Linked DNA regions of Homo sapiens: region 1 is linked to region 2. Evidence: fine-mapped expression QTL. Tissue or cell type: blood mononuclear cells. Region 2 holds a variant in brackets; the other region holds the start of a gene. Each region is shown on its reference strand, or each on the opposite one. Region 1 holds the start of GSTA4 (glutathione S-transferase alpha 4). Region 2 overlaps ZC3H12A (zinc finger CCCH-type containing 12A).

Region 1 (2,906 bases), not on the chromosome of region 2:
ATCTGACTCAGTGAAGCGTGCCTGTGATTTTGGTGGACGAGAACTAGAACTGAACGGTGCTTCAAAACGTATTTTTCTTTCAAAGGTCTCAAAAGCTGTATGACAAATCCGTGAAGAAACAGCATATAAGGTACCTCGACTCCGGCGGCAGCTAAAACCCATCTCACGGACTCCATCCGGCCTCTTCCGTTGGGATAGTGGAGCTTGGGCCTTGCTGCCATGATAGCTTTTCAGGCTTTCTGAAATACAAATGCAGCAGCTCGTCGCAGACCAACAGTCCCAATTTCGCGTCTTCAACCCAGTGCTCAGGGGCGAAATGAATATTCAGGATTTTGGCACGGGAAACTGTTCTTTATTTTTGTTGCTGCATTTTCCCTCACTCAAGAAAAAAAAACCACCATTTTAAAACATGGAGAAAAAAACCTTGGCTTTTATATGATTTCTATTTATGACTTCTTATCCTGGATCTTGGGAAGCTGGGGCCATTTGTTGTAAAAACATATGTGCTAGCAGTACGGGATTTCACAAATTCAGAATATTATATATTTTGACCTCGAGAATCTCAGATTTTCCAAATTCAGCTGGGGGATAGGGGGTGGCAGGCGTTGAAGAGGGTAGCGAAGGAAAATCGCACAGCCACTGGAAGCTCTTCAAGTATTCATGCTTTTACATACATCATCATATTTTATTATCACGGCAACTGGAAGGTGAACAGGCCGAGTACTACTACTGTCTGCAAAATGTGCGTCCACCGTCACGCATGCGGTGGCTGCGCCCCCCGGGTCCCGCGTGTCCACCACCCCTACAGGGAGATGAGCCCCCGGCCTTGTAAAACGAGCCGGGGGCCAGGGCTTGGCCATCTGAGATCGCACTCTCCCATGCTCGTCTTCCCCGCTCAGCCCATGCAGGGGCGTAGCGGCAGCCCAGCCAGGCCCGGGGACGATCCGAGCCCACCTTCCACCAATGCATTCAGACTCCGCAGAAGGGGTTTAAAAAAAAATACGCACACTGAGCCAAGAAGGACCCCAGCTCCAGCCAAGGGGCCCACCTCTGCCCAGACTGGATGGAGCAGGAGGACAAAGGACAAGAGGAAGAAAAGACAAGAGAAGGACTGAACTGGGGGAGTGAGGGAAGAATGCGAGAGTGAGACTCAGAGAGTAAAGGGGAGGGAAAAAAAAGAAGAGAGAAAGGGCGAGGAAGGGGGCGACCGCAGGAGGGAGACAGACCTGGAGTCCACTCGGAGGCCTGGAGCCGCACAAAGCGCCAGGTCAGCGGTCCCGGCTGGGTGAGACCAGCAGGCGGCTCTAGCGCGCGGGAGCTGGGCGAGGCTCCGGGACGACCTCACCAATGGAGACTGCAGTATTTAGCATGCCCCACCCATCTGCAAGGCATTCTGGATAGTGTCAAAACAGCCGGAAATCAAGTCCGTTTATCTCAAACTTTAGCATTTTGGGAATAAATGATATTTGCTATGCTGGTTAAATTAGATTTTAGTTAAATTTCCTGCTGAAGCTCTAGTACGATAAGCAACTTGACCTAAGTGTAAAGTTGAGACTTCCTTCAGGTTTATATAGCTTGTGCGCCGCTTGGGTACCTCGGATGTGAGGGCGATCTGGCTGCGACATCTGTCACCCCATTGATCGCCAGGGTTGATTCGGCTGATCTGGCTGGCTAGGCGGGTGTCCCCTTCCTCCCTCACCGCTCCATGTGCGTCCCTCCCGAAGCTGCGCGCTCGGTCGAAGAGGACGACCATCCCCGATAGAGGAGGACCGGTCTTCGGTCAAGGGTATACGAGTAGCTGCGCTCCCCTGCTAGAACCTCCAAACAAGCTCTCAAGGTCCATTTGTAGGAGAACGTAGGGTAGTCAAGCTTCCAAGACTCCAGACACATCCAAATGAGGCGCTGCATGTGGCAGTCTGCCTTTCTTTTGACCCATTACCCATCTAAGTTAGATGCTTTTTTAAATGTTTTTTAATTTTTAAATTTTTAATTTTTTTCATTATTTATTTTTTATTTTTGAGACGGATCTCGGCTCACTGTAACCTCCACCTCCCGGGTTCAAGCGATTCTCCTGACTCAGCCTCCCGAGTAGCTGGGATTACAGGCGCGCGCCACCATGCCCGGCTAATTTTTCTATTTTTAGTAAAGACGGGGTTTCGCCATGTTGACCAGGGTGGTCTTGAACTCCTGACGTCAGGTGATCCTCCTGCCTCGTGCTGGGATTGCAGGCGTGAGCCACCGCTCCCGGCCCTTAGATGCTTTTTAATCAGCAAGTACGCAATGCTTTCCTGACAGGAATGTCAAGTCCGTCAGGAAATCCACATAAGGGTGTTAAGCAGGCAAAGTACCACATACAGATTAAAATCAAAAGCACTGTCAACGCTTATTTAATTTATACAGTAGACCCTAACTTTTCTAATTTTGTGTATACATATATATACATGTATACATGTATACAAACATACATATTTTCTTCTTTCTTTCTTCATCTCAGTGGGACATCTTGAGATTTCTCTTCATTTTGTACATTTTAGAGACAAGTGCTCTATAGTCACGGTCTCAAGTCAGCACCTGTTTGGAAGGGGGTCTTTGGAGTTGGGGGTGGTGCTAAAAGAATAATTTGGCTGGCAAGTTAGTTAAAACATTAAAAATATATTAAAACTATCAGGGCTATATTATGGAACAATTGCAAAATTCACATGGATTTCAAAGTTTGAAATATATGCCTTCGAAAATAAATTTTGTTTTTAGAGGCAGCTTCTGCTATTTCTCAGGCTATAGATGTTGTTATTTTCTTCACCCACGGGGGCGCTCGAGAGTACCTTGCTTGACAAGCCTGGGTGCTGAACAATTGCAGCCGCTAACATGATCAGATTTTATTTTCAATAGGTTTCTCTGGCCAAAGT
Region 2 (2,906 bases):
CAGGTCCCTCTGTCCGCAGAGCTTACCTTATGCTGTGGGTCCCTCCCTGAGGCCAGCACTGTGTCTCCACTCCTCTCCTGTAATGTGAGGCAGGGCTGTAAAGGGGACCAGCCCGTGGGCAGCTGCTCACTCACCCCTCGGAACCTGATCTCAGGTGGGTGTTGTGAGGAGGGAGTGTGCGGATCCCGGAGAGGAGCAAGCGTTCAGGAACCATAGTAGTGGTAGTAGGCAGTGGTAGTAGCAGTTGTTGTTGTTATTTCAGGGGCTGGGCTTCTGAGGCCTTCTTGTCTCAGACCTGGGCTCCCACGAAAACAGGTCCAGTGACTGTGTCCAAGAGTGACCTCAAGGCTGGGTCCAGCTTTACATGGGTTGTGGGCAGGTGGCCTGATGCTCTGGCCTCAGGCGAGCTGCAACTTGGATCCCTACTGACTCAGCTGAAGCAGCCTGGGCTGGACCAGTCTCTGGAGGTTCCCCGGGGCCAGAGCCAGGACTCAGCCCCCAGTGACTCCCACCCCCATCCCCCAGCACAGGAATGGGGTGGGGAGGTAGGGGCAGAGAGGGAAGCCAGGGCTGCTGCTGACCTTGGGAAACCCAGACTTCTCCCGTCAATCCAGGCTCCACCCTCTGGCCCCACTTTTTTCCCAGTTCCCTCCAAGGCAGGCTGATGAGTCAGTGCTGGGTGGATGGCTCACAGGGAAAAGTTCCTGTTGGCATGGACGGGGAGACCCCAGACACAGGGTTGAGAAGGGATGATTTTCTGGCTGCCCTGAGGGAGCTCCTAGGTGGGCTGCCCAAGGCTGGCATGACATCAGCCTCTGCCCTCCCTAATTTGTGGCCCCTGTGGGACAAGTTCACTGTCCAGCTGGCCCTGGCCCAGCTCAGCAGGCATGCAGCTGAGTGCTCTTCCCTCCTTCTGTCACCTTCAGGCCAGTCTTCCTCTCTCTGACTTGGGCTGAGCCTGGATGGGAGGCTGAGAAAATCCAGTTTCCATGCCAAGAGGCAGCAGGTCACAGCCCATGCTTCGAGATTAGAAGGGGTCCCTCTCAGTGTCCAGCCTCATGTAGCTGGGCTAGGAGCTAGGTTGGATCTGTGTGACTCCTTCCTCTGGAGGTATGGGCCAGGAGCGGCTGAGCCCTGGGAGCAGCCATATGCAGTATGTGTTTGTATCCAGAAGGAGGAGGGACATGGGAGGAGGGGCTGTGATGAGGGGTGCTCAGAGGAGCCTGCTCCTGAGAAGCAGAGCCACGCACCCACCTCGGGGGTTTCTGAGCTGGGGTAGTGGCAGGAGGGGAATTCCAGCCTCAAACTTCCTGTCTCAGCTGCTACTCGGTTCCTGCCCGGCCACCCC[C/G]CCTCCCCAGGGGCAGGCGGGCTAGCCCCCCCATCATATGCAAATCATGGGGAAATTCACCTCTGTTTCCTTCTAAGGGAATTTTTTTCCACTCGCCAGGCCCAGCCCAGGCATATCTTTTCACCTGGGGAGGCTGGCCCAGCCCTGCCTTCTGTCCTGGGGCAGGAGCAGCCTAGCTGGAGTCTTCTACACACACATCCTATCAGTGTCTGCTTAGCCCGGCTGGGGGACCCTGACCTTACAGGCAAAGAGAACTGGAATGGGGGCAGGGATGTCTGGTTTTCCTGTGCCAGCAGCGCTTCCTCCAGTGCAGTGAAAGAGACTAAAGCTAGCTGTAGGGGGGCACTCCAGGCCTCATGTGCTCTACCAGGAGGAGGGCTCTGATAGCGCCCACTGATCAGTTTTTCCATCTGCTGAGGGAATATTCAGGTGCTAGGGCTGCTGAGAACCGACTTGTCCCAGCCAAGATTTTCAGTGCCCACAGGCAGTGCACTGCCCTGAGAGCCCTGGCATCCCATTAGTTCCCAGTGCTCCAAGATACTAGCCTAGGATCATGTGCCCGGAGGGAGGCAGGTGGGCGGATACATGCGCACACTGCATACCTGAGACAAGGAGCCAGGCCTGGGATGACCCAGCTGCCATGGTTTTGAGAGGCAGGCCAGAAGGCCCAAGGAAGGGGGGTGATGTGATGGGGGAAGCACTGGGCATTGTGAAGACACAGACCAGGGACCTGACCTATTGTGGCAGGTCAGGGAAGGCTTCTCAGAGGCAGTGACATCTCACAAGGGTTCTGAAGGAAGAGCAGGAGTTTGCCAGCAGCATTGTTTCTCCCGTTCGCCACCTGTCTCTCATAACACACTTTGTTCAAACTCAATTTTGGGAGCTTTGTTCTCCCAAATAAATTCTGGATCTTCTGTTAGAGACAGGAAGGCAACCGAGTGGCCCAGACCTGGGTTCGAGTTCTGACTGTCTCTTACCACTAGCCAGGTGACCTTCCTTTCCTTCACGGTAGCAAGCCCTATAAGAATGAAGCCATATATCTGGCCACCAGCGGGAGCTCAGTGCCTGCGAATCCCTGCTCATTCCCTGCGATCAGGGTCTGTGCCTGCCTTCGTACCTGCCTGAGCATTGACGTACAGGGTAGTGATAAGCATAGGCCCTGGGCTTGCGTCTCTCTTCCACCGTTAACTGCTGTGTGACCCTGGTGACTAAGCTGCCTTCTCTGGACCACAGTTTTCATCTGAAAAACAGGGAAGGAGTTGATGATGGTATAGTGCCCTCCTCACAAGCTTGCTGATGATTCAGTGTTAGACACTTATAACAGGGCCTGGTTCACAGCTCTCAGCAAATGGGAACTTTTATTATAAGCAGGCTGGCAGATGTGGCAGAGGGACCGGGAAGGATGAGTGCTGCCCTGGGCTGGACTTTGTCTCCCCTACAATTTAGAGACCTTCAGACCCTGGTGCCCCAGTCTTGCCCCCAAATAGCCTCCATGGCCCCCAGCTGCCCCACCTCCCTCCCTAGCTTCTCTTAGGGCTCCAGCTATCACCCCTTACCT

Evidence for each region. PIP is the estimated chance that this variant, and not a neighbour inherited with it, causes the effect.
Region 1: GSTA4 starts here. The variant in region 2 is the best candidate, but not a certain one, in a credible set for the expression of GSTA4 in blood mononuclear cells (TOPMed, PIP 0.67).

The regions. Positions count from the first base shown.
Region 1 is chr6:52,994,023-52,996,928 of GRCh38, forward strand. GSTA4 (glutathione S-transferase alpha 4) reads right to left here and starts at 1,262. Exons shown (of 7, transcript NM_001512.4): 1 at 1,227-1,262; 2 at 135-239. The coding sequence starts at 221. RN7SK (RNA component of 7SK nuclear ribonucleoprotein) reads left to right here and starts at 1,598; the gene lies at 1,598-1,929. RefSeq lists silencers at 1,183-1,414, 1,746-1,835 and an enhancer at 1,366-1,585.
Region 2 is chr1:37,476,140-37,479,045 of GRCh38, forward strand. The region is part of intron 2 of ZC3H12A (zinc finger CCCH-type containing 12A); the gene reads left to right. Among named protein-coding and RNA genes, the nearest start is that of MIR6732, 2.6 kb to the right of the region's middle. RefSeq lists enhancers at 1,096-1,395, 2,786-2,906. The variant C/G (reference allele first, on the strand shown) is at 1,349.